Linked DNA regions of Homo sapiens. The protein of the gene in region 1 purifies or fractionates together with the protein of each later gene. This does not show direct contact. Each region holds a gene or a part of one and is shown in the gene's direction. Other genes may lie near its edges.

Region 1 (4,038 bases):
GCCTCCCAAATAGCTGGGATTACAGGCATATGCCATGACCCCCAGCTAATTTTTTGTATTTTTAGTAGAGACGGAGGTTTCTCCAGGTTGGTCAAGCTGGTCTTGAACTCCTGACCTCAGGTGATTCACCCACCTCAGCCTCCCAAAGTTCTGCAATTACAGGTGTGAGCCACTGTGCCTGGCACAGCGTTTTCAAAAAATGTGTGCTGAAAAAGTATCACATGAAGAGGATAAGAATTGACAAGTTCCTGCCTTTGCTTTATACCTATAATATATGAATGGCTTTCTTAGGTGGACCAATTTCTAGGTATCTTATGTTGTGCACAGATAAATTTGTAAATCTGTCATTAATGGCCTAGTTAGAATAATACTTTCAGGTATGAACATTTCAAAGATACTCATAGGTCTCTCAGTTTGTTCTAGTGTGAAGAAAGTTGGCCCGGCGTGGTGGCTCATACCTGTAATCCCAGCACTTTGGGAGGCCAGGGTGGGCGGATCATCTGAGAAACCCCGTCTCTGCCAAAAATACACAATTAGCCAGGTGTGGTGGCGCATGCCTGTAATCCCAGCTACTTAGGAGGCTGAGGCAGGAGAATCGCTTGAACTAGGGAGACAGAGGTTGCAGTGAGCCAAGATCAAGCCACTGCACTCCAGCCTGGGCTACAAGAGCAAAACTCCATTCCCTCCCCCGCCCCCGCCCCCGGCCCCCGCCCAAAAAAAAAAAAAAAAAGATACTGAGAGTATCTGTCAATTGCATGAAAGGCCTTTCTCCTATTTTTCTCCCTTAAAAAGATGTAGGGAGGCCGAGGCAGGCAGATCACAAGGTCAGGAGATCGAGACCATCCTGGCTAACACGGTGAAACCCCGTCTCTACTAAAAATACAAAAAATTAGCTGGGCATGGTGGCAGGCACCTGTAGTCGCAGCTACTTGGGAGGCTGAGGCAGGAGAATGGCGTGAACCCGGGAGGCGGAGCTTGCAGTGAGCTGAGATGGCACCACTGCACTCCAGCCTGGGTGAGAGTGGGAGACTCCATCTCAAAAAAAAAAAAATATATATATACACACACACACACACACACACACACACACACACACGCAGACACACACACACACACGTATACATATGAGAGAGAGGGGCTGGGCATGGTGGTGCATGCCTGTAATCCCAGCACTTTGGAAGACTGAGGCGGGCAGATTGCTTGAGCTCAGGAGCTTGAGACCAGCCTGGGCAACATAGCTAGACCTCATCTCTACAAAAAATACAAAAATTATTGTATTTTCCTACAAATTTTGTAAAACTTTTCTACTAAAAAAAGAAGAAATAGAAATAAGGTCTCTGGCAGCTAGGCAAACTTTATGCTGTAAGACTTCAGATTCACTCCTTGTTATTAACCTCTTAATGCTCCTTGTTATTAACAATATGTTCCTTATTAACCTCTTAATAACCTCTTAATAACTCTTGTTATTAACCTCTTAATAATGAGTATTGGAGACTTTATGGTTCTGAATGAAGGTCAGTATTTATTTGTTCTTTTGAGACAGAGTCCCGCTCTGTCGCCCAGGCTAGCGTACAGTGGTTCAATCTCGGCTCACTGCAACCTCTGCTGGGAGGGGTTCAAGCAATTCTCGTGCCTCAGCCTCTCAAGCAGCTGGGATTATAGGTGCCCGCCACCATGCCCGGCTAATTTTTGTATTTTTAGTAGAGATGGGGTTTCTTCATGTTGGTCAGGCTGGTCTCGAATTCCCGACCTCAGGTGATCCGCCCACCTCGGCTTCCCAAAGTGCTGGGATTACAGGCATGAACCACTCCACCCGGTCTTAATTTTTGTATTTTTATTAGAGATGGGGTTTCGCCATGTTGGCCAGGCTTGGCCAGGCTGATCTTGAACTCCTGATCTCAAGTTATCCGCCTGTCTGGGCCTCCCAAAGTGTTGTGATTACAGGCATGAGCCACCATGTCTGGCCTATTCTTTGATTCTTGATTTTTTTATTTTTATTTTTTTGAGAGTGAGTGTCACTGTTGTTACCCAGGCTGGAGTGCAGTGGCACCATCTCAGCTCACTGCAACCTCCACCTCCTGGGCTCAAGTGATTTTCCTTCCTCAGCCTTCCGAGTAGCTGGGATTATAGGCATGTGCCACCATACCTGGCTAATTTTGTATTTTTAGTAGAGATGGGGTTTCTCCATGTTGGTCAGGCTGGTCTCAAACTCCTGACCTCAGGTGAACTGCCCGCCTCAGCCTCCCAAAGTTGATTGCTATTAATATAATCCTATAGTTACCAGAACACGTATACTAGAATTACAGTACACTGAAATGGTCAAAAGGCAAATAAAATAGAAATAAGAAAATTTTGATGAAAATCTGGAGAATTAAGTCTTTCTGTAATTGAGAGTTGATTTTTTGATTGTGGAATCCTTGAAATGGTTTGAAAGAATGATGTGACTTGAATGGGCTTTATAAACACAGCCTGGTAAGGATAGCTGTGACAGCTTGGGACAGTGGATTTGGGGTACCACCAGTTAACATTTCTGGCCCTGTTTTCCTGTCTTTAAAGTGGAGATACCAACTCAGAATAGTAATGTGAGGATTAATTGAGGTAACTTATGCTAGGCACTGAACAGTGCCTGATACAGTATTGATAATGCTGTTTCTTTTTCCATGTGTAAAATGGGCATACCACTAGTCTCTTGGGTCAGTAATGCATTTCAGCCAAATGAAATAAATAACACAGGTGAACTGCCTAGGAGTGCCATACATAGATGAGCAGTAGCTACTATGTCAGTGTTCCTTTTGTTCCCTTTTATGAGTGCATTTTGTTTTGCATTTTCTTGTGTCTGTTGTGGCTTAAGGGATAAGATTTGTGTGTCTGAAATGCTGTGCTAAACAGGACGTTGTTCCTTGTGGAATACTTGGGTAATATGGTTTCCTAGATTTCATATTCACTATTTCTACTTTGAGAGTCTACTGTTAGGAGGCTTCTGTGTTCAAAGAAAACTGAAAATTATAAATGAATATTTTGGATTTGTAATAGGGGACACTTGGGTCTCTTCGTAGTTTCAAGTGACAAGTTGAGGCGGGGAGGAGGGCTCTAATATTTAGAGTTGTAATGCAGATTTAAGACTTAATCAGTTTTAGCTATTTGCTTTGTAAACTATATTGTATCAAGAGTCCTTATTTGCCGAAAACAGCTTTCTTTTTTTTTTAGAGACGGGGTGGGGACAGGGGTCCACGGGTCCGCTATGTAGCCCAAACTGGTGCAAACTCTTGAGCTCAAGCAGTCCTCCTGTCTCAGCCTCCTGAGTAGTTGGGATTGATTACAGGAGGGCAACATCATGACTGCCTTGAAGACAGTTTCCTTGATGAGACCTTTGTAAAATAACTTTGGTCTTGTCATAGAATTGGCTTAGAATCTTCTTAAAGTAGAGGTTTCTTTATAGAATTCTATAGTTATTTTTTAACCTCTGCTGTGCTGTGGAGGCCATGAGTACATATTTGTTTATTTTACACTTCATTAAGTTCCAGATTTGTAAAGTTTGGGGCTTTTTTGGGCTGTTGTTTTCCGAGACAAGGTCTCATTGTGTCACTCAGGCTGGAGTGCAGTGGCGTTATCGTGGCTCACTGTAGCCTCAACCTCCCAGGCCTCAAGTGATTCTTCCCCACCTCAGCCTCCCAAGTAGCCGGGACTATAGGTGCGCAACACCACGCTTGGCTAATTTTATTTTTTGTAGAGATGGGGTCCCACTATGTTTCCCAGGCTGGTCTTGACCCCCTGGTCTCTAGCAATCCTCCTGCCTCGGCCTCCCAAAGTGCTGGGATTACAGGCATGAGCTACCATGCTGGCCTTCTTTTCCATTAGAGACAGGATCTCTCTTTGTTGCCCAGACTTGAGTGCAGTGGTGCAATTATAGCCTGGAACTCTTGGGCTCAAGCGATCCTCCAGCCTCAGCTTTCCGAGTAGCTGGGACTACAGGTGCACACTGCTACACCTGGCTAATTTTTGTAGTATTTGTAGAGACGGGATCTCTCCTAGTCTTGA
Region 2 (3,500 bases), on another chromosome or scaffold:
AAAGTAAAACATCTGATTAATATTTTTATATTTATGATATGTTTTAATGATAATTTTTGATATATTGGTTCTAATAGAAGATCTTACTAGATTAACTTCACCTGTTTCTTTTCTCTCTCTCTCTCTCTCTCTCTCTCTCTCTTTCATGGTGTCTAGAAAATATAACAAATGTGGCTAACATCGTATTTATTTTGGACAGTGTTGTTCTAGGATAAAGCAGGAAAACAATATTCTGGGAGAAAGCTTAAAGATTTTGCTGGTCAAAACAATAAAATTGGCTTATTTTATTATACATAGAAATACCTCGTCTTTCTTATCCATTGTAACCAAAATTTGAGAAAACACACCACCTAACATCTATTTTTATTTCCTCAAAGCTGCTATTTAGTTTAGAGATTTGATGGTGAGGTAGTAATAATAGAGAAAAACTTATAATTAGAGAATGAGTCTTAACACCTCTCAAAGGCCAAAATAGAGTATGATTGTTACTTAGGAACATTTTAGAGACACTGTAGTTATCATTGTCCTGAAGTTACCAAACATAAACGAGTCACTAAAATTATTTTAAAATAGAGATTTTAGTAAATAGCAATTATCTTCAAATACTTAATATGTGTTTTCTTTTGCTAGAACTTTCTTTAGAAAGTTAAAAAAAAAAACCCATATCCAAAGTCCTGAGCAAATGTTAATAAAAGATTGCTGCATTCATAAGAATGAAAGATTTTTACCTGCAGATAGGAGGGTATTGTTTTGAATATTAGCAAAGGTGAAAATGTGTTTCTAACGTAACATTATGGGCTCTGAAGAATTTCTATACATGGAGACACTGTCTTTATAATTTGAACACATTCTTGAGAAGGCATCTGACTGGTAAACAAAGCACAATGGCATAGGTCCTGGAAACATTCCTTTCAGATATTTTCATAACTGAAGTACATTTTGCCATTCACAGTGAGTGTTAAGCTGAAAAAAATGTGGTTCTTTTCTAGCCATATAAAGTATGCTTACTATTATTTTCTCGAAGGATGCCAAAAAATGTAAAATGGATGTTGTGGATTCTTCGTGGGGAGGTTAGCTAGTTTGTATATAGAGCCTCAAGAAGAGTTGCCTCAGCTTGGTGCCATCTTGAGTCTGTCTTCCACTAGATGAGGCATAGCTTCCATTAGTGTCAGTGCGTGTGTGGAGGGTGAGGGGAAGAATGATCCCCATTAACTTTGTATATTGTTTCTGATGAGTCATGGAGCATATTCACTAATGGTTGGAGAATTATTGATTGCAAGGCAGAGGATTCAAGAAGAGCTATTGGCATATGGCATTAACTGTCTCTAGACATATTTTTTATTTTTAAATTTGAGGTAGAGAAATCGGTTTTTACGTAGTGTTTTTCATATTATAAAAAATAAACGTTTATATAAGCATTACAGATACATCCTTGAGGAAAAAAATAGTAAATACATGGTTATAGTTTTCTACATATTACCAGTTTTTTTCATAACAGATCCAGAACATCTCTTTCAGATAATCGTTCATGTTTTTAGAGAGGCATCTCATCATATGTGCCTGTGAAATCTGTAAAAATATGTGTAACACACATCTTGAAATATTTGTGTTAGGAGAATTAAGTCTTACACATTTGGTTCTTTTTCTACTGTTTTTGATTATGTTCTCTAGGTTACTATGATTATCTTTTGTTAAAACAGTTCAGGAAATATTAATCTCAAAACGAAATGTAGCCATATTGGACAGAGTAGAGAATTGCTTTTCCACAGAGACCAGTTATTCCAAAAAGGTGAAGATGTTTCTGAAATAATATCATGCTCATATGCTCCAAAAGAAAAACCATCATCTCTTTTGACATTCTTTTAGGAAACTGAGAGATGTATGTTTTATATACCAAAAGAGGTGAATAATAGTTGATAAAGGTATGCAAAATACATACTCCTGTGAAGTGTGAACATACAATTTGTATGTAACGCATGCATGAGCATATAACTTTCCCCAAGACAATGCCAATTTATTCAAATCACCTGAATGTTAAATAATATCATACTATTAAGAAGAATTGTGGTAAATATGAAATCTAAATACCAGTGATGATGTCCATGCTGATGTCAACTCCATTCCAGTCCTGCTTTAGCTAAATTCACAAAATGAAGAGATGTCTTTCTCCAAAGTAGTTTTCCAAAAATTTGTATTTGACACTGGATTTTTTCCTACGTTTTCACTTTTAAAAGTTTAGAAGCTATTAACTAAAAATGAACTTGTTTTAGAGAGCTAAGAAGATTCTAGATTTATGGGGACATTTAGTTCTATGAAATAAGCATTACGTTGCTGACTTGAAATATTATTCTATCATATAAAGTTGATTTATAAGTGAATACATATTGTGAAAAAATACCACAGTAGACTTAGTGAAATCTACCAAACTTAATCAAGATAGATATACGTTGTCCTCAAAAAAATAAGAATCTGGTAGGGAAAATAAGAGCTTCGAAAATAACTATAAAGTAGAAAGTGATATTTAATAAACAATGGCTGGGTAACATGGTATGAAAGTTCAGATAAGGGAAAGTCTTAAGATAACTCTGACTTGACCCACATACATGTAATAAAGGGAACAGTCCTTAAATGCATAAATAATGGGAACAAAAGGTATTCAGTATTTTTCAGCCTTAGCAAAATATTATTCTGTTAACGCAGTATTCTATTCAGCAATGGTTCCATATTTTCCATATGTTTATAGATAACATTCAGATATCGAATTTTCATATATGTTTTAATTCATTTATTTATTTCTTTTATCTAGGAGAAATATAATGGTTTCCAAATGTCCTATACTAGATTATTGATAGATTTTGTCATTAGTTTTACTATTGAATACCATGAAATATCAGCTGTTGCAGCCACTAAATAGTTACAAACTGTTGGTACTACAGTTTACTAGTCAATCCATGGTTATATGCTTGTGCTATGCTAAATATAAAGGATTCAAGATGAGGACTTAAGCAGTTCATATTTGTATTTAGAATATTATCAAAGATATTTTCTTAACTTGTCTCAGTATTAGAATTTACAGCCCATTTTCAGCTTATTGTATCCAGAAATTTCAATCATATCCAATAATTTATCAGCATTTGTTGATGACAGTAAAAGTGACACATTAGCATTTTATTTGTTTCTGTGTTGTTTGATTACAACAGTGACATTTTAGCACTCTTTGTGGACGGATAACTCTTCTAGTAGAAAGAAAGCAGGAGGGTGGTCAAGCTAAGTGACAGATACAAAGAGTTGGAGGACATAGGGCTTTCTGTGGGTAAGAAATGGATGAGAAAAGCTTTATGTCACTGACTAGGCTTGCAATTCAGTATTCCCCTATCAAAGGCCCCCTTACTGATGTTTCTGTTTACCAGATCTTGGTTTCAAGATGCCAGGTTCTGAAGAGATACACCACGAGTTCTTATAAACACTATATCTAAATTTGGTTTGAAAGTCTAATGTTT

The links.
Region 2: the proteins of CELF1 (region 1) and MBNL1 purify together in Homo sapiens (co-immunoprecipitation; one study listed by IntAct). This does not show direct contact.

Annotation. Positions count from the first base shown.
Region 1 is NC_000011.10:47,542,929-47,546,966, reverse strand, and holds part of CELF1 (CUGBP Elav-like family member 1), read left to right. Parts: intron 1-4,038. UniProt on the Homo sapiens protein: RNA-binding protein implicated in the regulation of several post-transcriptional events. Involved in pre-mRNA alternative splicing, mRNA translation and stability.
Region 2 is NC_000003.12:152,271,929-152,275,428, forward strand, and holds part of MBNL1 (muscleblind-like protein 1), read left to right. Parts: intron 1-3,500. UniProt on the Homo sapiens protein: Mediates pre-mRNA alternative splicing regulation. Acts either as activator or repressor of splicing on specific pre-mRNA targets. Inhibits cardiac troponin-T (TNNT2) pre-mRNA exon inclusion but induces insulin receptor (IR) pre-mRNA exon inclusion in muscle.